Linked DNA regions of Homo sapiens: regions 1, 2, 3, 5, 6 and 7 are each linked to region 4. The links come from fine-mapping of genetic effects on gene expression. A gene starts in region 4. Each other region holds a variant in brackets. All regions are shown on one strand. Distances are from middle to middle.

Region 1 (4,068 bases), 140 kb before region 4:
GAGTTAATACATAAAGCCAATGAACAAGTTGTACAGAGCCTCAATCAGACCTACAAAATGGACTACAACTCCTTTCAAGCAGTTACTATCAGTAAGTGAAATTGTTTAGATATGGTCATGTTATTTATGGTTATGCGTAAACCTAGGAAATTAGTTTATGCTACAATGTCCTCTGGGAAGCTAGACACTCCAGTTCCTGGCACAGGGGGTTCTGTACCACCTCCTCCTCTTATGCCAGTGCCTCCCAATCTGACTAATGCCACTGTACCTGGGGTGTGTGGAAAAGGGGCACAGGGATTTACAAGGGGGCCACAGAGCCATCTGGGTTTGTGTATAACAGATCCAAAACTAAGTAAAAAAAGTAAAACTAATATCACAGTGGAGGTTTAAATATTCACAAAATGCACCAATAAGAAATAGAGGGCCATTGTTTTAGAGCAGTAGGCCTCAGAGTGCAGCCCTCTGTCATCCCGGCTGGAGTGCAATAGTGTAATCATGGCTCTCTACAGCCTCTACTTTCCTTGCTCAAGCGATCCTCCTGCTTCAGCCTCTAGGGTAGCTGGGGCCACAGGTGCACACCTCCATACTCAGCTAACATTTTTTTTTTTATTATTTTTTGTAGAGATGGGACCTCACTATGTTGCCCAGGCTGGTCTCATACTCCTGGCCCCAAGCAAACCTCCCACCTTAGCCTCCCAAAGTGTTGGGATTACAGGCATGAGCCACCATGCCTGGCTGTGTTTTTATTTTTATTTGTGAAATGATAAGGCAGTGATCCCATGGATTTTTACTGCCAAAACAATAATAAGAGCTACAGTTTCTCCAAGTCACCTCCCAATGTAACTCTCTCTTGCTGCTCCTGTTTTCCAGACAGTGGAACTAAGGCTCGGCCAGACTAAGCAAGTTCCTCAGGGCCACACAGCTATGGGTGGGACAGAACCAGGATTCAAATCCAAACTTACTGTCTATAAAGCTCCCACTCTTAAAGAGGTCCATGAGTATTAGGAAATTCTTATTTCTCAAGCAGACTTTATTATAATTAATTAATTTGTTTTTACATTTCTAAATCCTTCAAGACTTAGGTCAGAGCTTTCAATAAGCTTGAGATATTGGTTACTGATAAGAAGCAGTTGATATTATTCCAGTGTGTAGCACAGAAACTTGGTATTTAAGTTTGTTTTTTTTTTATAAAAAAATGTGCAATTTTCTACCACACTTTTTGAAATATTGAAAATAGCTTTAAAATCTCCATTACTGCCGTTAAGGAGCCATAGGGCAAACACCCCAGTCGGGAAACCCTGTCCCTGGCATGTGGCAGGACATACCTCCTCAGGGCTCAGACACCAGCTGCATGGGAATGGAGTGAGGAGACACATTGCCTCAGCCAGTTCAGCACCACAGATGCTGTCAAGATCTCCAAGAGCCTTGTGGTGGTTGTGTGTGGTGAGTAGCATCAGTGACATTTATTTGCTTTGGGATCTTATTAACTTTTCTTTGGGTTTCCAGATGAAAGCAATTTCTTTGTCACACCAGAAATCATCTTTGAAGGGGACACAGTCAGTCTGGTGTGTGAAAAGGAAGTTTTGTCCTCCAATGTGTCTTGGCGCTATGAAGAACAGCAGTTGGAAATCCAGAACAGCAGCAGATTCTCGATTTACACCGCACTTTTCAACAACATGACTTCGGTGTCCAAGCTCACCATCCACAACATCACTCCAGGTGATGCAGGTAGGTCTCCATTCAGTAACTTGTGTGAGGAATGGAATGAAGAGCTTATAAAGAAGCAAATATGTAATAGTGTTTTACGTAGCTATGTAGATAGTGTTTTTCTCTTCCAAAATAAGTCTCCTGGTTCAACCTTTCAAAACTGAAAATTAATCCGATATGTATTAGTCCATTTTTACACTGCTGTAAAGAACTACCTGAGATTGGGTAATTTATGAAGAAAAAAGGTTTAATTGACTCACAGTTCTGCATGGTTGGGGAGGCCTCAGGAAACTTACAATCATGGCAGAAGGCAAAGGGGAAGCAAGGCATGTCTTGCATGGCAGCAGGAGAGGGAGAGAGGGTCTGGGGAATTGTCAAACATCTGGTTTTAAACCATCAGATCTCATGAGAACTCACTCCCTATCATGAGAACAGCATGGGGGAAACTGCCCCCATGAGAAAATCACCTACCACCAGGGCCCTGCCTGAACATGTGCAGATTATAATTCGACATGAGATTTGGGAGG[G/T]GACACAGAGCCAAATCATATCACCGTGGTATTAATTGTTAATTAATTTTAAAATTCATTATTTTCATTATTTGTTTTATTATAGTATATAATATAATTATTTTCATTATTTTGTTTTAGTATATAATATTACTTTATTATTAATTTAATTTTCAATTGATTTTTAAAAAAATTTAAAATAGCTTTGTTGAGGAAGGAATTGATATATAATAAACTGTACATATTTAAAAAGTCTTGACACACGTGCACCTGTGAAATCATTACTACAATCAAGAGAGTGAACGTATCCATCGTTCTCCCTGCCCTCACCAAATTTTCTGGTTCTCCACTGTTATCCCTCTCTTCGGCTTTCTCCTGTCCTCTTGCCCGCTCCAAGCAACTACAGAAGCAAGCATAAGGCTTAATTCTTCCCTAAGACTAGTGGTGAACCTGACATATTCTGGAATGTAATAGCCGCATTGTAACTCAGATGCCAATGGGGCCATCTTCTTTTCTCTGCATGATGAGGTGGGCTATAGACATATGGGTCCTATCACATAGTTGTTGATTTTGATTTACAACATGGTTAAATACTACGGCAATATTACCCATCTTTTTCTAATTCTCCAAGGCTTTTCGATTTTTCTTTTCTACTTCTTCTATTGTTATACTTTTTTTCTTATTAGAAAAGTCCCTAAAATTTCTACTATTTCCTTAGAACATCTCTGTACTCCACTTTGTGGCATGAGAAATATCTGCACTTCCTGAATTCCTGAATGGTTTTTTAGGCGTCTTTAGACCAAGTCTCAGATGCTTTTGAAAATGATACTTCATGAAGTACTGTCATGATCCATGAGCTGACGGTACATTCCTCTAAGAAAATACACATGTGTTATAATAATACATGATTTTGTGTATTTTATGCAGGTGAATATGTTTGCAAACTGATATTAGACATTTTTGAATATGAGTGCAAGAAGAAAATAGATGTTATGCCCATCCAAATTTTGGCAAATGAAGAAATGAAGGTGATGTGCGACAACAATCCTGTATCTTTGAACTGCTGCAGTCAGGGTAATGTTAATTGGAGCAAAGTAGAATGGAAGCAGGAAGGAAAAATAAATATTCCAGGTGAGAATGTTAGATAAGCCCTTTTGCAAATAGGTTTTTGCCTCTTGGCCAAGTAGAAATGGGAGATGTGGCGTATGGAAGGGGAAATGTCAGATGGCTGTTATTTTCTGGATTTCAGACTGTGAAAAGGCATTAGGTTTGATGCCAGCTCCAGCTTAGCCACTCTAGAACAAGACCCCAAAAATATATGCACACAAGTGTCGTGCTTTGGTTGTAGATGAGATCCCAGCAGCAGAAGACCCAAGAAATTAGGATCCCGATGACTTAGGTCGATGGCATTTTGGATCTAAAAAAAGACAAGAAAAGCTTGTGCTCACCTTCCTTTCATCTTCAGCAAAGAGCTAAGGATGAGGTCATTTGTCATTGAGGTCTGACTTGGAGCTTCTCCTTTCTGTGTCTCTTCTCCTGGTGTCTGGTCCTTCTCACTTCTCTGCCTTTGTATCTATGCATACCTCAATATTTTCTATCTCTGTGCCTCCAGCTTTATCCCTCTCTCTCTGCAGACCTGTTTGTCTCTCAGTCATTTCATATGATTTCTGATCCTGTTAGCTTTTGTTTTCAATCTGAAATCTTACCTAAAGTTCCCCACCCTCCAGTTTATATTGATGAATAATAATAATGGTAATAAATTAAAACAGCAATACTGACTCTGTTTTGTATAACAGTTTATGATTAACCCTTTAAAAAATATGTTACTGCTTTTAAATTGCTTGACCACAAATTT
Region 2 (4,068 bases), 40 kb before region 4:
TTTCTACTTTGGTTACACTTGAGAATCAATAAGAAGCTTTTATGCATTTTACTTTATGCTTTTAATACATGATTCTGATAAGTGGTCTGCAAGATTCAGCAGGCAGCCAAAGGAGTCCATAGTACACAAACCCTAAGAATTTACCTTGCTCAATGAATATGGCAGGAAGTATATCTTCATCTTCACTCACAGTGCTTAACACATTGCTGCTGTGCAGTGAGTCTTTCTTGAGCAGAGCGTGAGATGGAGAGGCCGTGGTGGGTCCCTGCCACCCAGAACCTCACATTGCTGAGCACCTGATGCCAGGCACTGTGTAAAATGCTGTGGAAGCCTTGTCACTTCATTCTCACATTGACAATCCTGTGAGGAGGGATTATTATACTCCGCAATCACAGATGAGAAGTTTAGAGAAGTTACGCAGTGTAACCAAGGTTCAACAACTCTTTGATCAGGCTGACTTGGGAATCCAAGCCTTTACCTACTGTGCTGCCTCCCTGTGGCATTGTGTCTGGAATTTGTGGGTTCTTGGTCTCACTGACTTCAAGAATGAAGCCACGGCCCCTCGTGGTGAGTGTTACAGTTCAAGGCGGCGTGTCCGGAGTCTCTGTTCCTTCTGATGTTCAGATGTGTTCGGAGTTTCTCCCTTCTGGTGGGTTCGTGGTCTCGCTGGCTCAGGAATGAAGCTGCAGACCTTCGCGGTGAGTGTTACAGCTCTTAAGGCAACGCGTCTGGACTTGTTCGTTCCTCCCGGTGGGCTCGTGGTCTCCCTGGCTTCAGGAGTGAAGCTGCAGACCTTTTCGGTGAGTGTTACAGCTCATAAAAGCAGTGTGGACCCAAAGAGTGAGCAGTAACAAGATTTATTGCAAAGAGCAAAAGAACAAAACTTCCACAACGTGGAAGGGGACCCGAGCGGGTTGCCACTGCTGGCTCCGGCAGCCTGCTTTTATTCTCTTATCTGGCCCCACCCACATCCTGCTGATTAGTAGAGACGAGTGATCTGTTTTGACAGGGTGCTGATTGGTGCGTTTACAATCCCTGAGCTAGATACAAAGGTTCTCCACCTCCCCATCAGATTAGTTAGATACAGAGTATGGACACAAAGGTTCTCCAAGGCCCCACCAGAGCAGCTAGATACAGAGTGTCCATTGGTGCACTCACAAACCCTGAGCTAGACACAGGGTGCTGATTGGTGTGTTTACAAACCTTGAGCTAGACATAAAGGTTCTCCAAGGCCCCACCAGAGCAGCTAGATACAGAGTGTAGATTGGTGCACTCACAAACCCTGAGCTAGACACAGGGTGCTGATTGGTGTGTTTATAAACCTTGAGCTAGATAGAGAGTGCCAATTGGTGTATTTACAATCCCTGAGCTAGACATAAAGATTCTCCACGTCCCCACCAGACTCAGGAGCCCAGCTGGCTTCACGCAGTGGATCCCGCACGGGGCTGCAGGTTGAGCTGCCTGCGGGTCCCGCGCCATGCCCTCGCACTCCTCAGCCCTTGGGTGGTCTATGGGACTGGGCGCCGTGGAGCAGGGGGCGGGGCTTGTCGGGGAGGCCAGGGCTGCACAGGAACCCACGGAGGCGGGGGAAGACTCAGGCATGGCAGGCTGCAGTCCCGAGCCCTGCCCCTCGGGAAGGCAGCCAAGGCCCGGTGAGAAATCGAGCACGGCGCCGGTGGGCTGGCACTGCTGGGGGACCCAGTACACCCTCCGCAGCCGCTGGCCCGGGTGCTAAGTCCCTCATTGCCCGGGGCCGGCAGGGCCGGCCGGCTGCTCCGAGTGCGGGGCCCGCCAAGCCCACGCCCACCCAGAACTCCAGCTGGCCCGCAAGCGCCGCACGCAGCCCCGGTTCCCGCTCGCGCCTCTCCCTCCACACCTCCCTGCAAGCTGAGGGAGTGGGCTCCAGCCTTGGGCAGCCAGAAAGGGGCTCCCACAGTGCAGCGGTGGGCTGAAGGGCTCCTCAAGTGCCGCCAAAGTGGGAGCCCAGGCAGAGGAGGCGCCGAGAGTGAGCGAGGGCTGTGAGGACTGCCAGCACGCTGTCACCTCTCAGCATCTCTTACCTAGGTTGCTCCAGAAGTCTCCTACTTGGTCTCCCTGCCTGCATTTTTGCCCTGTTCCAATATGTTTGCAATACCACTATGTCACAACCAACTTTACTTAAGGCCTTCCAGAGGCTTCTCATTGCCCTCAAGGTACCATCAAACTGATATGCCCTGGGCATCTGTGACCGGGCTTCATCTGCTTTCTAGGGTCACTAGGGCCATCGCTTCCCCCTCCCTGTCCCAGATCCCTCACATACACCATACTCCAGCCTTGCCAAACTTGCTTTGGTCTCTCAAACTTGGCATAAATTCTCTTCGGTCTGGGCCTTCCTAAAGCAGCTCCTTGGCCTAGTGTGTGCTCTCTCCTCCTCTTCTTCTGCTTAACCCAGCCTCCCTTTTAGTTTTCTGTTCAGATACCACCACCTCCTCCA[A/G]GAGACCTGAATTCTTCTGGTCTGAATTCTTCAGACTACATTATGAGCTCCAGGTAAGGGCTCCTGAGATCTTTGGGCCTCCCCTTCACATTCCATCCCCCTTTACTGTTTTTGTGAGTTAACTTATTGCCTTCTCAGCTGCATGGGATCTAGCCTATCTGTCCACTTTAGGGTGAGCACCTGGCACCTACAACAGTGCTTGGCACATTAAGTGTGCCTAATGTATATTTGTTATATGACTGAATAGATGAGTCATTGAGACACCTACTCTTAAGAACTCATCTGTTCATTTGCATGAAATGTCCAGAAAAGGCAAATCTATAGAGACAAAACGATTAGTGACTGCCAGAGCATGTGAGTGGCAGCTGGGAGTGATTGCTAATGGGCAGGAGAGATCTCTTTAGGGTGTTGAAAATCTTCTAAAATTGGTTTGTGGTGGTGGTTGCACAACCATATGTCTACTAAACATCATTGAGTTATACACTTAAAATGAGAGCATTTGATGGCATGTAAATTATTCTTCAATAGAACTGTTTTGTAAAGGAACTCATCTAGCCTTTGCTGGCTCCTTGGCAACCAGTTCCACAGATTGCTCTGATGGCAGAAAAGCCATCCCAAAAGCTTACATAGCTTAACATTTTTATAATAGCAATAGGGGCCAGACCTCATGTTTCACTGTTTCACACACAACCTTGACTTCTCAGTGGAAAGTATTTTGCTACCTTAGATTCTTCAGGATCTGCAGTCATCAAGTTTCATGGAACCTGATAAGGAGGCTCAGAGTCACATGGCTGAGGGAATTCCAGTACTGAACATTAAAAAAAAAATCTTTGTAGCTAAATTTACTTGGAGACTAGCACAATGTGCATGGGTGTTAGATAAGGCCAGAGAAGTGTCTTGAGTGTGACCAGGCGAGAAATAGGAAGCCAACTTAGAGAGCAGAAGCTGTTCTCTCTAATTTCTGAACCCCTGCTGCAAAGTTGCTAAACAGTCACATGGTTCCTAGTGGGTGGAAGGTCTCTGATTTCTCTTCTGCAAATGTGGCAAGAATTTAGAGTTCCCCGGCCCAATAAGAGGAACATGTGTGGCCACAGGCTGGCCTTGGGACTCCAGTTATATCCTGGAAGGGAGCTTCTTCTTTGCCTTGGTTTTGTCAAATGACATGTGACAAGAAATGGTTTGCTAAGAGACTGCTGCTGTACTTATAATGTTCCCACAAGCCATGCCAGAGTGCCCAAAGAGAAAAATTCTAGTACCCCTCAAGTCCAAGATTCCTGGAGAGCTCACGGCTTCTGCCCCAAAGTCCTTTGGTCTGATGGAATCTAGGACTACCCAAATGTTGAGAACAGAGTGACAAAGCCAGCAGGGGAGAGAATTCCTGAGCTGTCTCTTAGTGAAATTTGCTCTTTTGCATAGGAATTATTGGTGATGCCTGATTGCCCTATAGTTGTTACATGTGATTTTATAAGATGGGGGGAACAATCCTCTGGAGGGAGTGTGGGACGGTGGACAGATGACTGGACTAGAACACAGAAAACCCAAATTCAAATACTAATTCTACAACAAATCCGCTATGTGAGCTTGGGGAAATCACT
Region 3 (4,068 bases), 72 kb before region 4:
TCTGCAAAATTAGTTGTGGGCATAAACATTAAGTGCATACCTTAAATGCACAATGCAAATATGTCTACAAAATAAGAATATACACATGTGTATATGGCTAAATAAAATAATAAAATAACTTCCACACTTTCTCCCTTTGCCTTTCCCCCACTGAAGCAGAGATTTAGAGTGCATTGCCTCAGGAGAGTCACATGGCAGAACAGAAAACAGAAGTGGCTTGTGAGTAGCTCTGGCTTTAGTTGACATAGATAAAGTACCTTAGAGTGAGGCAGTGAGAATAGTGTTCCTTACCCCAATCTAAAAAGACATTCTCTCTTTCTGGAGGAGGAAAGCAGAACTTAGAGAGGTTTGTGGGTTCTGAAAGCATAAGAAGCACATACGGTATTTTACCCTGCTTCCCAGCCAGATGCCTGGGAGATGGCAAGACTAGACAGCTAGTACTGCACAGAGCCTTAGAAGAGATTTCTGTATCCCGAGCTCAGCACCCAAGCAGCAGAAGCCTAATGGACTTGAAGGGGCAGGAAAAATAGATACTGACTAGTAACCTGTGGGGACCAATGACCAAAGATCAAATGCCTTTCCTTTCACCTAGCATGCATGCACTTTGGCATTGTAAGACAAAGATGGGGTAGAAAAGAAAGATACTCCAGAGAAACTGAGATTATGTTTTACTTTGTGTGCATTTTACCCTCCCATCAACTCATTGAAGGTTAGAATCTAAGTTAAAAATTAAGCCAAGTTATATAAAATAAAATTACATTTCTTGCACATTTGATTTAGTGCTTTCTCTCAAAGAGTTTATATCTATTGGCCAGGAAATTACATCACATTTTCTGGCCTTTATTTCATTTAATAAACTATCAAGTTGGAGACTCCACAGCCTAAATGTCATATAATGTCATATCAAGATCATTAAAGAAATAGTCATGGGAATAGTCAATAAACTAATTGTGGAAACTACACAGATAACAATAACAAGAGCATTCATTACATCTGCTGGGAGATTTTCATGTACTTTTACCTATTCTTACTTAGTTACATCTGTAATATGAAGAGATGTACCCAAGGTAGCTGTGGTGTCACAAAAATGTGAGAAAAAAAAAGTGATTATACTGAAAGCAAGCTTCCTAGAAGGCTATTTCGCTTTTGTTATTCTCAATCCAAATGGTGGGATTTCTGAGAGTGATTAATTTTAAAATTATACCTTTTCTTCCTTCTCCATACCTAAATAAGCTGTAAAGAGGGAACTAAGCAACTCTGTAATAATTTTGTAAAAACTACCTCAACATTATTGGGATAAATGGAAACAGAGCCCATTTGAAGTCTTTCTCTTCTCCATGAAGGCAACCCTGAGTGCTCCTCCTCTGAATGCAGGAGCCACATTTGACTGATTTATTTCCTTTCTTCCTTTCTTTCTTTCTTTCTTTCTTTCTTTCTTTCTTTCTTTCTTTCTTTCTTTCTTTCTTTCTTTCTTTCCTTTCTCCCTTCCTTCCTTCCTTTCCTTCCCTCCTTCTTCTGTTTTCCTCTTCTTCTTCTTGTTTTTTCCTTCTCCTCCTCCTCCTCCTTCTCCTCCTCCTCCTTCTTCTCTTCCTCCTCCTCTCCTTTCTCCCTTTCCTTCCTTCTTTCCTTCCTTCCTTCCTTCCTTCCTTCCTTCCTTCCTTCCTTCCTTCCTTCCTTCCTTTCTTTCTTTCTTTCTTTCTTTCTTTCTTTCTTTCTTTCTTTCTTTCTTTCTTTATTTCAGATGGGGGTCTCACTTTGTTGCTCAGGCTCGACTTGAACTCCTAGGCTCAAGTGATCTTCCTGCCTC[G/A]GCTTCCCAAAGTGCTGAGATTATAGGTGGCCAAGGCTTGAGTTGTCTTTATGTAGGTGGTTTGCTACACTTAAGATACTGTTAGCTCCTTGAGAGAAAGGGATATACTTTTTGTCTCATTGTAACTCTTGTTCCTAGCCAACTGCCCTGACATAGTAAGTTGTACATAGTTCTGTGTCAAACAAGTTAGTTTTGAAAACCACTAGCATTCCTTTAACCTTGGATCAAATAATATAAGAAGAGTTAACTTTATTTGTTCTTTTTTTTTCTTTTGAGAAGAGTTAATTTTAGATACCAATGGCTGTACGTATTAGAAGATAAGCATAAGAAGGCTACCTAGATTCAGTTTAGGAATTCCTTTGAGAGAATTTCTGGTGCTCAAAATTGTCAAGGAGCTTGAATCTAATTAATCCTCCCACAGATAACAGTTGTAAACTTGAAAAAATAAGAAAATAAACTCTTTAAATATGCTGGAAAATGGCTAAAACAGGCAGAAACTGGAGGACTTTTTCTTAAAAGAAGGAAAATTTCATTGGGTAAGATTCACATTTATACAGCTTTTTGCATGAGGGCACGCTCTAATTTCTTCAATGCAAGAAAGAGAACTCAAGTATAAATCTACAGTTGCATTTTCTTAACATACCACAAGGACAAGTTTGGGGCTGAGTTTTAACCCGAGTGGCTGAAAATCAAGGGAGAAAGTCCTAGAAAGGAAAGTCATGGTAGATGAAGAGGAGATTCATCCCAAAGTCTGTATATAAGTGCCCCTTCAATCCTTGTCTGACTCATGAACTTTGCATAAATGGGAGAAGGCTCCAAGCCCCTCAGTAGGTAGTAGCCATTGGAAGGCTGAGCAACCTGAACAGATACATCAGTTGCTGCCCACTGCAGTGGAGGAAGAATTTGGAGTTTGAGTCATGCAAATTTACAGGGGTTGGGGAAACTCGGGCATTCCATTGAAATCCCAGAAGGACCATGACTTAACAGTAAAGACTATATTCCAGAACTAAGAGATTTGCCTTGAACTAAGGGCAAGACCACAAAATCCTCCACAAATTCCAGATGATCATGCAGTAATTTAACTGCTCTAACAAAAATTAACACAATTCAGAGGAGAATGAAAACACGCATAATCACTACAATGTAACACAATGTCTAATATATAATCAAAAATTATGAGACCTGTGAAGGAACAGGAAATTGTTATTGATAGATATTAGTAAAAGCAATAACTAGAAAGAGAAACAGACCCCAAGGTGACTAAAATGTTAGACTTAACAGACAAACACTTTAAATCTCTATTGTATACTTGTTACATAATTTAATGGAATAAAGATGAACATACAAATAATCTCAGCAGACAAATGGGAATTATATAAAAGAACCCAATGAAAATTCTATCAGTATTATATCAAAAATAAAAAATTCACTGGATAATTTTAAAAGCTGACTGGCGATGGTAAAAGAGACAGAGAGAAAAATGTTCAGAAAAATGAATAGCGCTTTAGTGACCAATGGGAAAAAAATCACCCAGTCTAAGATATGTGCAGTTAGAGTCTCTGATGGACAGGAGAAACACAGAAAAATATTTGAGCAAATAATGGCCTAACGTTTTTCAGATTTGGTTATTTAAAAATCACCTTAAAGACAGAAGAAACTTGGTGAGCCCAAACAGGATAGATAAAAAGAAAATCAGCATAAGCATACCATAATCAAGCTGTTATAAAAACAAAAATAAAAAGAACGTATTGAAAACAACTAGAGAAAAAAGACATTACATACAGGAGAACAATAATATGAAAGTTTGAAAGATGGATGATTTATTATCAGACACTGGAGACAAGAAACAGTGTATCTGGAGCAAAATATTTGCAAAATATATATCTGATAAAAGACATATCCAAAATATATAAAGAACACTTAGAACTCAATACTAAATAACAACTCAATTTTTAAAATGGGTTAACAGAGCAGATATTTTATAAGGGAAGATATACAAATGACCAATGAGTAACTTTAAAGGAGGTCAACATTACTAGTCATAATGGAAATATAAATCAATAAATTAATAAAATAGCACTAGATGCCCAACAGAATGGCTAAAACTTTAAAAATTGACAACACCAAATGTTAGCAAAGGCATGGAGTAAACGAAACTCACGTACATTGTTTGTGGTTGTATAAAATGGTACCAGCACATTGAAAGAGGTCTAACACTAAACCTACACCTATACTATAACCCAGCAATTTTATTCTTATTT
Region 4 (4,068 bases):
GACATTCAAATTTCACCAGATGTTCTGCATTTTTATTTGCTAAATCTGGGCACTCTTCACTGGGCATCTTCTCAGGGCACTAACCTGCCAAATGCCAACTGCTGTGGGGCTGCTCAGAGAATATGACCTAATGACAATGGGAGATGACATGTTGCTGGCAATGAGAGAAGTGAATAAAATGTTGCATACTTGTTTTCAGGAGCTGTTCTCAAAGCTTACCACCTTTTTAGTGTGGGATTAGGTCTTCAACTTCAACTTTGTCTTCACCTTTGTCTTAAGGTCAAAAGAAGACGTTAGAGATGTCTTTGGTAGGGCATAATGTATCCTTTTAGATTGATATTTGTGGGCCATTTGTTTTACAGGGGGTTAGTCCAGGAAGTACAAGACAATGTCATTAGGCGGATAGAGTTCCATTTAAATTAAAAATAAAATCTATTGTTAGGTTTAAATGAGTCACTGCTTCATTAAGCTATCAATATTAGATAACACATATTGAATGAATGTTTCCCATAGGCCAAGCTCTGTCCCAAGCATTTCACATGTATTTGCATTTCGTGCTCACAAACTGCCTCTGACTGACTGATTTTGATTTTCTTGATTTTATGGATGAGGAGACCGAGAAGCAGAGATGATGAACTTCCCCAAGGTCACACCACTCATAAGTGGGAGAAACAAGCTAAAATTCAGGCCATCTTACTGCAGAATACTCAAAATCAAAATAAGCAAAATTTCATCTCCAGTTCTGGCACCTCACCAAAAACCAAAACACGATTTAAAAATATAAAATTTTAATAACACCACACATAAATTTCAAACTACTTTCCCTAAGTTTCTAGCTGAAGTTTTAAATGAGTGTGTTTTTAATTTATTAGAAAGTGGATTGAAGAGAAAACATTGGAAGATGAAGGAAGGCGTTTCAGTTAAACCCCAAATAACTCTGTGTTACACTGAGCTATGAAACGGCTCCTTCTAGCTCCATTTCTCCTCAGACCTAAGTGCTATTCCTGATTGTCCTTCATTGTCATTTCCAGGGAGAAATGACACCAGCACAGTGGCAGGCCTTCCAATCTGGAGCACGGTCCACACAACTTCCGAATTGGTGTTCAGTGTAAAGTGTATCGGAGTGCGGAAAATGCGCAGGGCATTGCCAACTATAGATGCTCGGAGTAATTCAGTGTATTCAGAGAACACGGTGAAACAAGGAAAACCGGCCTGACTGGGGGGTGAATTCAGCAGGGAGTAAATCTGATCGGCATCAGGTCTGCGGAAAGGAGCTGGTGAGCACGACACCACCCAGGCATTGCCTGGCTCTCTCCGCGGCGGGCTAAGTTAACCGCGGGTCCAGGTGCGGGCCATGGTCTTGGGGAGGGTGCTGGGTGCGCTCGAGCAGGCTAGCGTCGGGAGCCGCCGCTGCTAGTGAGAGGCCGGGGCCACACACGCTCCTCCCCGGTACCTCCTCCAGCATCACCAGGGGAGGAGAGGGTCGGGGCCACAAGGCCGCGCTAGGCGGACCCAGGACACAGCCCGCGCGCAGCCCACCCGCCCGCCGCCTGCCAGAGCTGCTCGGCCCGCAGCCAGGGGGACAGCGGCTGGTCGGAGGCTCGCAGTGCTGTCGGCGAGAAGCAGTCGGGTTTGGAGCGCTTGGGTCGCGTTGGTGCGCGGTGGAACGCGCCCAGGGACCCCAGTTCCCGCGAGCAGCTCCGCGCCGCGCCTGAGTGAGGAGGGGCCCCGGGGGCGAGGCGGGAGTGGGAGGAAGGGCACGGTCGCCGCGCTGGAGGTCGGGACCCCGGAGCGGCGACCGGCCGGGGTGGGCTCGCTGAGTCGCACCCGCTCTGCTGGCCGGTCCTGGGCTCACAGTCCCTGCAGCCCTCGGAAACAGCGCTAGGATCCTTGCGGGGAGAGGGAGAGGATGACGGTATTAGACACCAGTTCTTCCAAACCTTTTCCCGAAAGGAAGCAACCCTAAGAGCTCAGAGCTGGGGGGAGAATCAGGACAGGCAGGGAACACATGGAGTTTTCTTTTCTTTTTTTTCTCTCTCTCTCTCTTTCTTTCGTTCCTTCTTTCTTTCTTTTGAGGCGGAGTCTCATTTTGTCGCCAGGCTGGAGTGCAGAGGCGCGATCTCGACTCACTGCAACCTCTGTCTCCCGGGTTCAAGCAATTCTCCTGCCTCAACTTCCCGAGTAGCTGGGACTGCTGGCGTGCCGTATCACGCTCGGCTAATTTTTTTGAATTTTTAGTAGAGACGGGGTTTCGCTGTGTTCGCCACAATGGTCTCGATCTCCTGACCTCGTGATTCGCCCGCCTCCGCCTCCCAAAATGCTGGGATTACAGGCATGAGCCACCGCGCCCGCCCCGGAGTTTTCTTATCTGTAGATCTCCTACAGGGACAATCTCTCTCTCCGTCTCTCTCTCTCTCTCTCTCTCTCTCTCTCTCTCTCTCTCTCTCTCTCTCTCTCTCTCTCTCTCTCTCTCTCTCTCACACACACACACACCACTACACACCTCTCACTCTGCCTCCTCTCTCTCTCTCCCTCCGCTCTCTCTCTCACACACCCTTCTCCCTCTCTCCCTCTCTCTCACTCTCCCTTTGAGGAGTATTGCGTTTTTGGAGCCCAGTTATGCGTGGCTGCTGTAAGAACAAAACAAAGCACTCTTTGTCCTACCTGGAGCATCCCCCTGCCGGCCAGATAAGATCACAGCTGTGTCACCAAGTCAAGGGAGAGGCTCATTTTTAAAAAATTAAGCAAAATCAGAAAACAGAGAACACTGTCTTCCTCATCATCTCCTGGAGCTTGTAAGAGAAATTTCTGTCACCAAAAACGAAAAGTTCGGGCTTTTATTCATGCCTGTGGTTCTTGGGATTACTGCAGTGGTGATGAGGAAGGAGAGGTGCGTATGGCTCATAAATGGCAGCTTGCCACCTTTAAAAGGCACACGGATTCAGATTTGGGATGTGTTAACAAATCAGGCTTGCACAAATTACTTTTGATCCAAATGAGAATGCTGAGCTGGGAGACTGGTATATGGGTAGGAGCTGGAAAATGTATCCCCTGAGGTGTTGGCAATCCCAAGAGGCTCAGCACGAAACCTTGAGCTTACATTGAATTCAGAGATCTGAGCATTAAGCACTGGCCTGATCAAGAAGAAGCAGATGGCCTTCTGGTCACGAGGCACTGGTGAGCCTCCATCACCCAGGCAGATTCCCTCACAGAGGAATTCTGCTGGCCCTGCAGAAAGTGGTGAGACAGCGCACCACCTTGGCATTTTCCAGCAGGCCTACTTCAGCTCCTTGCACTTGGGCACTGAAAGTGCTTTCCCCTCCCCAGATATTTGTGCACCAGAAGCTGCTGCTGGCCATGTGGTGATGTCTCAATGTCTTTCTTCATTGAACTGGGCCCTTCATACCCAAGGCTGGCACCATAGTCTGTGACTGCCTACTGTACAGCCAGCAAGACTGAAGGAGTTGCAGCATTAGGAGTGTTGTGAATCTGGTTCAGCCACTCATTTTACAGTTGAGAAATCCCTTCTGAGGTGTGGAAGGGCTTGCTTAGCACCGCAGGACTTTTCCCTCAGACAGAACCTGGGACAGCTGGGTCCTCATTTCCTCTCCATTGTGTCTCTGTCCCCTTTGCACTTTTGTTGTGAGGAACATACATGGGCCTAAACACATTCCCTCACTCTCACCTTTGCACATGAATATGACTTACCACACTCTTTGAAGCTCTGTCAGCACAGAACATTAAGAAAAGTGCTAACTGGGTACCTGAGCAGCTGGAGTGGGAGCCCCTGGGAAAGTCAGTTTAGGAGTCCCCTTTATCTTCCTTTTCCTGATACCCAAGAAGATGGCTATTTCCTGGAAAGGAAGGTGGATATTGGATTATTTACACTCTGATTCCTCTTAAGCCTAATTTTTTTTCAAGATTCGTGATAATAAGCCTGACTGACGTCTCAAGATGTTGAGAAATTTCCATAAAATAAAAGCATTGAAGAGAAAGTACTGAGTGAAGGGAAATTGAAGAGAAACATTCAGTTCTAAAATTGTATTGTTTCAGAATATGATTCTGGGT
Region 5 (4,068 bases), 130 kb before region 4:
TAAGTTTAAAGTTGTCCATTGGTAGCACCCTATGTCAACCAGCAAAAAAAGAAAAAAAAATCAAAGTCTCTCTGGTAGATGGTGCCCTTAATCCAGATCCCTAGGGATTCCCAGAGATTAAGGTCAACCAGCATGATCTCACAACCCAAAAATCTCAAAACACAGACAACTTCATGAGGGATTTACAAGCTCATTCATTTTTTCAATAACTATTCTGGAGGGCTTACTCAACGCAAGACACCATAGTAGGCAATGAAAGGGAGAAAAAAGAAGTGGGGCACATATTTTAATATCTAGAAGGGCCCATGCCCTGAAAGGCAATGCATATAATATAAAATATCCAAATAGAATAATACAGACTAAAAAAACAGTAGAAGTTCAGAAAAGTGGGGACTCAATAAACACTGTAGTCTTTAAAGAAGGCTGCATGGCAGAGGGATATAATCAATCTGGATTTTGACATATGCAGCATTTCAACATTCTGTGTTTAATATGCATACATTCAGTGCTTTCTATGCACCAGATACTGAGCTGAGCACCAGGAGATGGAAAGATAAATAAGACAAGGTACTTTCTCTCCAGGAGCGTATGGTCTAGTAGAGAAGACAAACTCATGAATAGGTGACTATATACCAATATGGTAAAGGCAGAATAGGATAAATGCTCAGAGCATGATGAAATTTAGATAGGGAGAAGGATTTGTGGAATGCTGAAAAGGCATTCTGAATGTCAAAAATGTGTGACTTGGAGTCATGAATGGTAGAGGAGAAGTTTTGACTAGCACACATGCAAATGTGGGCTTACATACTTCAAAACCCAGAGGTAAAACCTGTTAAAAATGAATGTGGCACATTCCTCGGGAAAGCTTGGACAGGTTTATTCATATTAGGTTATCTTAACACAATTTGTGCATTAGAGACTCATGTTGTGACTTAATTCTTTCAATAATTCTGTCTTCAGCAAAAGAAGTTAACAAAAAACAAGTGTGCTACAAACACAATTTCAATGCAAGCTCAGTTTCCTGGTGTTCAAAAACTGTTGATGTGTGTTGTCACTTTACCAATGCTGCTAATAATTCAGTCTGGAGCCCATCTATGAAGCTGAATCTGGTTCCTGGTAAGAACGTTTTAAATTACTTTAAGATGTTATAGTCAGGGCAGGGACTTATTTATTTATTCACTCCCTCATTCATCCCCATTCAATAAACATATGTTAAATACCCTCACTGTGGTAGGCCCTGGGCTCACCATAGTGGTATTTAAAAGAAAAGAAATAAGCCATGTCCCCTGGCCTCAAGCCTAGGGAAGAAATCTATGTGATAAAAAAATGTTATTGGCCGGGTGCGGTGGCTCACGCCTATAATCCCAGCACTTTGGGAGGCCGAGGTGGGCAGATCACGAGGTCAGGAGATCAAGACCATCCTGGCTAACACGGTGAAACCTCGTCTCTACTAAAACTACAAAAAATTAGCCAGGCATGGGAGCATGCACCTGCGGTCCCAGCTGCTCGGGAGGCTGAGGCGGAAGAATCGCTTGAACCCAGGAGGCGGAGGTTGCAGTGAGCCAAGATCGTGCCACTGCACTCCAGGCTGGGCGACAGAGAGATTCCGTCTCAAAAAAAAAAAAAAAAAATTATTACATGTAATACAGTAAGAGCTAAATAGAAATGTTGTGGGTGGCTTAGCTCTGCTAAAGGAGTTTACCAGGTGATTAGAAGTGGACAGTATCAATGTGGTTGAGGTCCTTTGGGGTTTCAGCAAATGAAAGGTGTCCACACTGCACTGTTTTTCTGAGACAAGGCTACATGAAAACAATTAATCTC[G/T]AGAATAGGCAGCTGCCTTTCCCATCCTTTGCCACCACTGAGTCAATTTGCCATCACATAATATCTTTGAGGTGAAAGTTCATGTTTTACAGAGTCATTGCTATGCTAGCCCATGTTGGGGAGCTCCCCTCAGCAGCAGGGAAGGATAGATCATCCTAATACAAGGTCATCTTAAGGGAGAATCTTATGTTAAGACAAGGGGTAAATGATGACCCTGGGCTTCTACCATAAGCAACTCCTCATCCTCTTAAATCTTCCCAGCAACAGGACTTGTGATAGACAAAGGATCGTTATCACCAAGATTGTTTGAGTTTACTGAATAGTTTGTGGTCATTCTCACATGTTGGCAACTAGCCCCTGGGCACCAAAACAGGAAACAATTTAGAGTCACTTTCACCTGACCTTTCCACGCACAAGTACAACCCCTCCAGGGTGCAGCAAAGGTCACCTCTTCTTTTCCCCATCACTCATCTTAGCCAACACATTTTATTCACTTATCTTTGTTCTTCTCCTCTTTCTTTATACCAAATATGGTTTCGCTTCTTTTTCCTAGTAGAACATTACTTATTTAAGATTTATATACAGTGGTTAAGATCTTAATGTTAAAGAAAAGTGTTGGTGAGGGAGGGGTCTCATCAGAGTCAGGGTCCACTGGACATGAGAGATTCCACAGCAAGTGTCATTTCCCCATCCTTGCCTGGTCATGAGAAGAGGTGAAATAGAATCACCTCTAAGGGAAACCAGAAGGAACAAATGCTTAAACATATTGATTAGAATATTCAGGTCATGGGTACCTAGAGTTCCTACTAGCAATTATGTCTTTGGATTATGGCAGTGATTCTCAACCTTGACAGCACACTGGAATCACCAGGGAGGCTTAAAAACCTGCTGATGCCTAAATCCCGCTCTGACGATTCCGATTTACTTAGCCCAGACACTGGTGTTTTCAAAAGCTTCCCAGATGATTCTAATATGTCACAGTTGAGAATCTCCAGATGAAGGTATAAAATTCTGTTAGGAAAAGGAAGTTCCGATTACAGAAGTCAGGTTCATGTGGAAAGCAGAGAGGGGCTTTGGAAAATCAAGGGCAAAATTAAGAAATTGGGTAGTTCTGAAAAGGTGACGGAAAGTAAAGGTAAATGTGAATTCAAACATCAAAATTCTACCTTGGCCTGACCGTATTTCTACTATATTGTCTCTTCCTTGCAATTATCCCTTTATTTCAATGTTTCCAACACAGGGGAAAACATCACATGCCAGGATCCCGTAATAGGTGTCGGAGAGCCGGGGAAAGTCATCCAGAAGCTATGCCGGTTCTCAAACGTTCCCAGCAGCCCTGAGAGTCCCATTGGCGGGACCATCACTTACAAATGTGTAGGCTCCCAGTGGGAGGAGAAGAGAAATGACTGCATCTCTGCCCCAATAAACAGTCTGCTCCAGATGGCTAAGGTGATCCTTAAAGCTTCCACTCTGAGCTCTTGGTGGGGCGATCTATCTGGCTGATCATATTTCTCAGCACTTAGGAAAATGGGTTTGGTGCTGCTTTGTGTTGCTCCAAAACTACTTTTATTTGTGTATTTCCAAAGGAGATGCAACCCTAGAAATGCAAAAAAAAAAAAAAAAAAAAAAAAAAGCCTCAATTCAAATACTAAGACAACTAAGTATGTGTTCTGCTCTCAGACCGACTAGATACCTTAACCTTGACTTCTCAGTACCATGTGTTCCATACCTCCAGGGGGCAGCGGTATTATCCTCTCTCTTATTGCTCTCCTTTGAGTAATTTTGATACCAAGAAAATTGCTATAATCCTTTCAGAAAAAGGAGCAATATAAAAAAACAAGCTTCATCAATTTCTTTAAAAAAAATAGCTGGGCTTGATGCTCTTACAGGTATGAAATTTTCTGACTACTTGGAAGTAACTTGTGCTTTTGAAGAAGCAACTACCCTGCCTCTCTTACCTATAATAGAGGTTACCGCTATGTAACAGGGCAGAAGTTCCTTTCCTTCTGTCAATGTAAAAAAATGGGACCTCCACACTTGATTTGTTGTTAGACTCCTAAAATTCCATGAATTACATTAAAAAATTCTGGTGATGCAACTGGTGAGGTTATAGGTAATGATGACATCTTCAGACAACCAATTCCAAATCCTCTCACCACTGGGTAAATAATTGAAAAAAAGGGTAATACTTATATGTGTTTCATCTAATTAACTTCTATCTCTTCTCTTGTCTCACACCAAATTTAT
Region 6 (4,068 bases), 96 kb before region 4:
GATGTCATCTAGGTAAATTCCCCCAGTTGAGTTCTGAGGGTCGCCTTTTGTGCCCTGGAAAAGGTAGCGAAACTTCTGTTCCTCTTTGAGCACCACATGGGCAATTTTCCAATTGTGGTCATCATCTCCTGAGGACAGAGAACAAGGCTGGTGAGAACTGTGACCAACACTTAATGAGTACTTATTATGAGTTTGGCACAGTGCCATGTGCTTTCCATAAATTATCTCATTAAATCCTCACAACAGCCCTATAAAATAGGTACTGTTATAAACTGGTTAAGTAACTTTTCCAAAGTTACATACCTAATAAGGAAAAATTGTTTTTTAAAATACTATGATTTATTTTAAAATTCACATTCAAATCTTAACCGTGAATTTGTTTTCCACTATAAGAATCCAGGTTCTGGATTTCCTCCTGAGTTGGCTGGTTCAACTGTAACCCCTAAGGTTAGCAAAGAAAACCCAAGTGTTAGGCTGAATCATATAAAATAGCCATTTTCTAAGCCAAAAGTAAAAAAAATAGTAACTCCATATGGTCCGACCTGTCACTTGTTGCCAGAGAGCTATAAGGAATGCTGAAGAGCAGATAATAACCTGTAGGACTGACTGGATCTTCCCTACCTAAAACTGACTCCCTCTCCAACATCTAGACTTTTTTCTCTTCCTTATATTATCTGAAAGTCCACCATGTAGGGGAGCAAAGTAAGCCAAATAGAGTACTATTGTCTGGAAATGCACGTTCTAATAAAGATTAGGTCTACTTGCTTTTTCTCTGAGCATGAACTAGAAGTGGGACTTTCGAATTAAGAGCTGAGGAAAGATGGTGAGAAGGCCGTTCTAGAACATAGGATCCTGGGTTGAACAGTATAAGAAGCCAGACAGGAGCTTGGGGGTACTGGAGAGAGGAAACTGCGAAAGCAAAGCAACTCAATTCCGCAAAGAGATGTGCCTACACTGATATTTTTGCACAGGGTATTCCCTAGAGTTGGGCTTGAAGAGGAGAGGAAAAATGCTTCCAAGTGGAAGTCATGTTGGCTAAACTGAGTTCCTACAGATGAGTGTCTTTTTTCCTTCTTCTGTGTCTTTTAACCAGATATCTACTTATAGAACTATACTTTCCCTGAAAAGGAAAAGACCTTTAATCTCCCTTGTGTTTTCAGGCCATTCTCTCTAAGTACAACTTCAAGGGACAGGTCTAACAATGTTCTGTTTCTTAGGGTGGAGCTGATTATGGCCTGTGTGGTTAGGTTACATGGGAACACAGGAGAGAGGTAGGTTACATGGGAACACAGGAGAGAGGTAGAGAAGGCACACGACCACCTCTGTAACATACAAATCTAGGCAGCTGCCCTCTCCTGCGGAGAGCATGGCAGCCTAGTGGAAGACACATGGACTTGAAGGGTAATAGGTGCCAGAAAGTCTAGGAATAGGAACAGAGATATAGGATTTGAACTATTTATCCAGCAGGTTATAGATCATGGGAATTCTGTCAAGAGAATAGGATTCTGTTCTTGCTGATTAGTACCTGCTTTGTTTTTTCTTAATATAGGATGTCAAAATGAGGTTGAGATGGGGGAATCTGGCACTGGGAAGGAGACCCAAGAGGCTATACCACATAGGCAGAAATTCATCTATGAAATTATTAAGATGGTTTCGTTTACATGCTTCCACAGGGCTGCCCTAAATCAGTCAGGCAATAATGCTACTACGATTGTTTGAGACAAATTTAATCCCTGTTAGTTCAGAATTGTCTTCTATAAGGAAGTCCTGGCCTCAGTAAAAACGTGTGTGTGTGCATGTGTGTGTACATACACATAGTTGTATGCCAACATTTTTCATGTAAGTTTGTATATAAGCATTATGTATGTAACATATATTATATACAGATATGCATATGGAGACATTTTGTGTGTAAGTGTTTTGGTCAAAATATACATTTTGCAAAACTTAAAAGCTATTCAAATTGGTTGCGACTGTCTTAAGTTGAATATCACATAAACAACACTAAGTGATATTCAACTAACCTTTTTGAAAAGTTTCATTGACAAACCAGTATCAGAACAGACTACTTAAAAAAACCTTTCATACAGTGTTCCCAGGGAACGTACACAGGCATACTCTGAATTCAATGAAACACAAAGCACAGCAGTGTAAGAAACTAAATTAAGCATAGGATGTTTGCTTGATTGATTTTATGCTTAGA[A/G]GTAACGCTTTTAGCTTTAGATGAAAGTGAGTGATAATAGGTCCCATCAATATTATTGAAACTCTAACTCATTTTCTCATTAAATATTTACAATCCTTGGTAACATAACACATCCTCAACTCTTAAAGAGTATCTAGCTGTCATCCTTTTATCATATAAACTATAATAAATTTCAACCAGAAAAGTGAACCCCTCAAAACTGTGATTTGTAGAGTTCCCAGGCAGCCCACAGAGTGGCTTGGATATAGGCGATTTGGGCACCTGTTCTTACAAGTGACCTCTAAGGAAGGTTTCTTCTTCAAGAGCAGCAGATATATAAAAAATAATTCCTTTCCCTGGACTCATTTCAATTGATAAATTAAATGCTAAGGTAGGCAGTTGGATGCTAGGATAATCTGGCCATAAATCAAGATCCAGGGTTATAAACAAAGTATTTGCTTTCTTTTGTTATGGTGGTGGTTCATTCATAACTAGGAAAAGGGAGACAGGCTTTCTTACTTTTCAACAAAAATTTCTCCATCTATAATCATTTACATGCTGACCTTCTTATATAAATATACAAAGTGACACTTAGGAACATGTTAGTGATTATAGGAAGTTAACATATACCAATGACTTATTTGCCACCAACTTCACAAGTAGGCTTCAAGTTACTTCAGCATATTAAATAATGGTATCATTTGTTTTTCTGAAACAGATGCAAAACACTTTGGTCAATTTTTTTTTTTTTTTTTTTTTTTTTTTTTTTTTTAGATGGAGTCTTGCTCTGTCACCAGCCTGGAGTGCAGTGGTGCAATCTTGGCTCACTGCAACCTCCGCCTCCCGGGTTCCAGCAATTCTCCTGCCTCAACCTCTCAAGTAGCTGGGACTACATGCGCGCGCGCCACCATGCCCAGCTAATTTTTGCATTTTTAGTAGAGACGGGGTTTCACCATGCTGGCCAGGATGATCTCAATCTCCTGACCTTGTGATCCACAAGGCCGCCTCGGCCTCCCAAAGTGCTGGGATTCCAGGCGTGAGCTGGTCAACTATTTAACTACTCTCTCTCCCGCAGCATCAATTCGCACAGGTCTTTTACCTTCTTATCTCCACTCCTGAACCATCCATTTTCTCAGTCTTGGCCTTTGCTTTCTCTAAATTTCCAGTGAAAACTGGATTTGTATATTCTGATTGGCTTCTTACAAAAGTATATTTCATCCCTACCTAAGCCCAAGATACTGCTTCTAATTTCTCAGTGGTTAAAACATTCATAGAGTAATTAAAACATGCCATATATTATGATAGGCTCTGAGAAGAGAAGAAAGTGGGTGGAGGAAAAGGAGGAGGAGAGAGAAGAAGGAGGAGTAGGAGGAAAGAGGGAAGGAGGAGAAGAAGCAGGATCCCGGATTTTAACCCAATCCATTCCTCGTGTGAATGCCTCTAAGTACCTTGAAAAGTCTGCACCTTCACCAACTTGCGAACATTGCCTGTGCTGTCATCCCTCCTGACCCAGACAACGAGTCTGTCTGAAGGACTTCCCGTCATTTTATAGAAAAATTGCAGGCACTGCTGCTTCCTCTTTGGGTAAAGAATCCGAGACTCCAGTAGGGCTGCCTCTTCCGCGGACCCCGAGCTGGTGCTGAACTGCATGAAGTAGCCGGCACCTATGGAAAGAGCAGCCAAACATCACACGTCTGGCTTCCCACACCCCAGGGTTCTGTCCACCCAAACAAAGTGAAATAGTGAACCACAGCCATTGTCCAGGCAACAAAAACTAGAACTCTTCGGAGGAAAATAAAAAGAAGGACATTTGTCAGTAAATATTCTCTGTCTCAATGGACTTAGTCACTGGCTAAAGCTTGCTCTCCACTGTTGTGTTTGATTGC
Region 7 (4,068 bases), 54 kb before region 4:
TGACTAGCTACAGTAATTTTAGTACCTGCTTTTTATGTGTAGAATGGATAGTGGTGCCTACTTCATGGGGCCAATGTAAAGATTCAATGAGATAACATATGTAAACCACAGCTACTAGAAACATAGGAAGCACTCAATAAACTGCTCCTTCTACCTGCTAGTTAGCAACTGCCTCCTAGCAAAACATGGGCACTAAAAACACAGCTCAGCCCACTCCTTGCTCAGTAGAATCTCCAGTGATGAGAACATAGGTCTTCAGCAGACACAACTTGCCCCCAATTATTTTATTGTCACAATCTTAATGGCAGATGTTAATTAGTTACCAGCTATTTGCAATCCTAGTCACTTCTTCATTGTGTCAGGGTATCAAATGAGTAAGGCTGGGGCCTTAAGTCCTTCATTTGAAGGGTTTATGGCTTTTCAGTTTAAAGAAGATTATGCACTCTGTGGTCAAGGTCCATGCTTTATTTCCTGTATTTGCCCCAGTGTTTGGAAACATAGTAGGTAATTAGTTCTCATTTTAACTGAAAAAAGTAAATAGAAATTTCTCTGAAGGTATCGGATGGGGTGACTTGCTTTGATCTCAGGAAGGGCATTTCATAAACTGACCAGTTGAGAAAGTGGTCTGAAGCTTAGAGGAAGAAAGCCATTGACAGGTAGAAAATGGAAAAACCCGCCCCCAGCTATTTCCACACACTCTCCAGCTTCATAAAAGCTCAGGCAAGGAGTTGGGCTAAGAGACTTGCAAAGTCCTCTCACCCCAAACCCTTCTCAAGGATGTTCTCTGCCCTCTTTCTACTCTATTGCAAGATGCTGATTCCTTCTGCTTCACTCACAGAGTTCTGCCTTCAACCAGCTGTCAGCTAACCTGAAACACAACAGTCCTTGTTCCTCCCAGGGCAATCAACATATTAACAGGGGCCCAAAGGTGTATAGAGCAAGAGTCGGCAAACTGTCTGTAAAGGGCAAAGAGATATATGTCAAGCATTGTGGGCCATATGAGCCCTGTTGTAGCTATGTAACTCTCCTGTTGTATGTAGCATAAAGTAGCTGTAGACAATAATGTAAAGGTGTGAACATGGCTGTGTTCCAATAAAACTTTATTCACAAAAACAAAGCAAAGGGTCATAGTTTGCTGACCCCTGGGTTTTAGAGAATAACCCTCAAGGTGGTGGAAATTGAGACGGTGATAATAATTATAACAGAAGCAGTAGCAGCAACCAACATGTACATAGTACTTACTGTGGGCCAGGCAGTATTCCAAGTATCTAAGGGTAATTATCCATTCAATCCTCACAACAATCCTACGAAGAAGCAACTATTATTATCTCCATTTTATATATTAAGAAACTGAGATGAAGAAAAATTAAGGAACCTTCTCAAGGTCATGCAGATCCTGAACAATGCTCCTAAATTCCACCTGAGAGGCAGTTCTTTACACCTATGTCTGGCCTTTGACAGCCCAGGAGTGAGGCCTCCACCATTATGCTGTAGCATGCAGACCCCTGGTTTCACAGGGTTCCATCTCTAACAGTTTACTAAGAAGAATTAACCCTGAGGGAAACAGTTCCCAAGCTATAGATTCCTTCAAAATCCTCTGGATGGTTTGTTGAGGTACAAATTTCTTGGCTTGGAATTTGGAAATCCTGACTCACGTCAAATGGTGAGTTCCAGAGATCTGCATTTTTAATAAGCACCCTTGTGACTCTGATGCAGGTAGTCTGTGGAACACACTTTGATGAACAGGACACTGTGGAATTTGCATCAGTCAGATGCTTCCACTCTCACTGTGGTTATCGAATAGCTTTCCTCTGATTCCCTTTGTATAAGAAAATCAAAAGATCATAGAACCTTCAGTTTCCTAATAGGGAATACATCAGATGTTAAGAATTCGAGAGATCATCAACACAGAAGTCCATTTCAGAAGGCCTCCAGGAAAC[A/G]GCCCCTCTGCAGTGTGGTTTGAGGACCTGCATTTTTAACAAGCTTGGGGGTTATTTCTATATGGAAAATGTGAGACCTGCTGACCTGGGCAGGCAACTGTGTTTTGGAGTGTGTACAGACACCAATCCCAATTGGTGAGGCAAGGGGTACTTCTTACTCAGCTGGGCACTGAGGACCCTAATAAGCCACTCTTTAGGGCCAGGTGGGCATTCAATGGATTTGGTTCCAGCCTTTTCTCTTTTATAGAACCCAAAGAACACATTGTTATCTTTCTCTTATGACACAAGGAAGAATCAGACAAGCAGCTTACTTTATGTTTTCCCAATTCTCTTTCTACTTATCGAACCCTCATAAAGTATTTAAACTGAAGCCAACTCAGCTATGAGCTACAAGATTGTCCCCTGATTTCAGGAAAAGTCTCCAACCTCTGCTAATTAGAGGGATTATCGCTGCTCACGCGGCCTAGTTGGACTGTGACATCTGGGAGAGAATACTTAACACATGGAAATTGTTGAGTGAAGGGAAGACACAATTGAGCTGGACTTTTCTCTGAAAGGAAATGTGATTCCTATGAAGAAGTTTTTCTACTGCTTCTGAAATAAGGGTACAAGGAAACAGGCTTAAATTGCAAAAGGGACACTTGATCGTTAGCTGTGAAGACCTTCCAGGGCATCTGAGGATTCTTGGATCCTAAAGTATTTTAAGAAGGGAGACAATGTTAGTCATAGAAAATAGTGCCATGGCTGCAGGCTGGGTGTGAGGCAGCCACAGACAGATACAATTCTTCAGATAGGGGTGGTATTGGAGAAAGAATGGGTAGGGCTTGGTTTGGGGATTTTTTGTTTGTCCTAGAAAAGTCATTCAGTTTTGAGGTCTTTTAATGGAAGCAAGATGATAGTAAGTTACACATGGAACTTGATCCAGACAACAGGAGGTTTAGCCATTTAAGAAAATAAATAGTATCTGTAATCCCATTTCCCTTTGAAAATGGCAAAATTGTTTTTGGTGCAGCTGATTCTTTTATGCAAGTGGACAACAGCTCTGTTTAGGGCCAATTGCATTATCTGCCACTTTAACAGGAATGTCAGTTGAAGTAACAAGGGGAAGGTGATAGGAGGCCTATTGGGGGCATTTTTGGAAATTCTCAGAATAATCGATCAAAGTTGACAGACTGGCAAAGGAGGCTTCCTGAATTGGTAGCAGGTGAGATTATACTCATATTCTGAATCAAATTTTAAAATATAAATTTACCTTCTAATTGCCAATGATGGGAGTGTGAAGACTGCAATGGCAGCCACTTTCTAAAACAATGTCACATATTACACTAATAAGGACAGCTTTGCACAAACATGCAAGCCAGAGTGTCAGTCACCGATGACCTGTGAGTAGAAGTGTTACATTTCTTTACATACCAGGAAAGGAAGAAAGCTTTTAATAGCTACACCTTGGTTTTTCAGTTGAATTTCTGGGAACAGGAGTTTGCCAACCCCCATCAAAGTTCCATAGCTTGAATAGCATTTGTTCTTATTAAAATAATAGCAATTATTATAATACCCAGAGAAGTTATTAGGTGCTTATTACATGGCAGGCACTGTGTAAAGTGTCTTACATAGGTTATCTCATTTAATACTCACAATAATCACATAAGATAAGAATTGTTTCTCTCAGTTTATGAAAGACTGAGCTTAGTCTAGTGCTCAGAACCTGAAAAAGGTCAAAATAGAGAAATTAGCTAATAATGTGTTCTTTTCATAGGTCAGTCTCCATTCTCAGTTGATTAGCTAAACCAATGTATTGACGCATGTGTTCATTCATTCATGCATTCATTCATAAAATCTTTACTGAGTGCCTCCCCTGTGCTGAACATTGTATTAGGCACTGGGGAAACAGTCGTGGCCCAGACAGACACTGTCACTGCCCTCATAAAGATTACATAAAGATGGGGGAGGCAAGTACCCACCAGCGTTTTAGTAGATCCCAAAGTAAAGGTGGGTCAACAGGTAAACAGATGAACAAGCTGTGATATATTCATATATTCCAATAAAATTCTACTAGAATAAAATACACAACAGAATACTGTCACCATGGAGTACTACTCAGCAATAAAAATAATTGAGCTACAAATAC

Evidence for each region. PIP is the estimated chance that this variant, and not a neighbour inherited with it, causes the effect.
Region 1: its variant is fine-mapped to the expression of PLA2G7 in whole blood (INTERVAL, PIP above 0.99).
Region 2: its variant is fine-mapped to the expression of PLA2G7 in whole blood (TOPMed, PIP above 0.99).
Region 3: its variant is fine-mapped to the expression of PLA2G7 in whole blood (TOPMed, PIP above 0.99).
Region 5: its variant is fine-mapped to the expression of PLA2G7 in nucleus accumbens (GTEx, PIP 0.99).
Region 6: its variant is fine-mapped to the expression of PLA2G7 in whole blood (TOPMed, PIP above 0.99).
Region 7: its variant is fine-mapped to the expression of PLA2G7 in whole blood (TOPMed, PIP above 0.99).

Annotation. Positions count from the first base shown.
Region 1 is chr6:46,877,478-46,881,545 of GRCh38, reverse strand. ADGRF5 (adhesion G protein-coupled receptor F5) reads left to right here. Exons shown (of 21, transcript NM_001098518.2): 8 at 1-91; 9 at 1,507-1,728; 10 at 3,141-3,344. Among named protein-coding and RNA genes, the nearest start is that of ADGRF5-AS1, 24 kb to the left of the region's middle. The variant G/T (reference allele first, on the strand shown) is at 2,235.
Region 2 is chr6:46,772,400-46,776,467 of GRCh38, reverse strand. No RefSeq gene overlaps it. Among named protein-coding and RNA genes, the nearest start is that of MEP1A, 19 kb to the left of the region's middle. The variant A/G (reference allele first, on the strand shown) is at 2,474.
Region 3 is chr6:46,805,179-46,809,246 of GRCh38, reverse strand. The region is part of intron 5 of MEP1A (meprin A subunit alpha); the gene reads right to left. Among named protein-coding and RNA genes, the nearest start is that of MEP1A, 14 kb to the right of the region's middle. The variant G/A (reference allele first, on the strand shown) is at 1,808.
Region 4 is chr6:46,732,827-46,736,894 of GRCh38, reverse strand. PLA2G7 (phospholipase A2 group VII) reads left to right here and starts at 1,520. Exons shown (of 12, transcript NM_005084.4): 1 at 1,520-1,715.
Region 5 is chr6:46,862,090-46,866,157 of GRCh38, reverse strand. ADGRF5 (adhesion G protein-coupled receptor F5) reads left to right here. Exons shown (of 21, transcript NM_001098518.2): 14 at 961-1,116; 15 at 3,062-3,270. Among named protein-coding and RNA genes, the nearest start is that of ADGRF5-AS1, 39 kb to the left of the region's middle. The variant G/T (reference allele first, on the strand shown) is at 1,822.
Region 6 is chr6:46,829,134-46,833,201 of GRCh38, reverse strand. MEP1A (meprin A subunit alpha) reads right to left here. Exons shown (of 14, transcript NM_005588.3): 10 at 3,631-3,846; 11 at 1-128. Among named protein-coding and RNA genes, the nearest start is that of MEP1A, 38 kb to the right of the region's middle. The variant A/G (reference allele first, on the strand shown) is at 2,204.
Region 7 is chr6:46,786,656-46,790,723 of GRCh38, reverse strand. No RefSeq gene overlaps it. Among named protein-coding and RNA genes, the nearest start is that of MEP1A, 4.7 kb to the left of the region's middle. The variant A/G (reference allele first, on the strand shown) is at 1,941.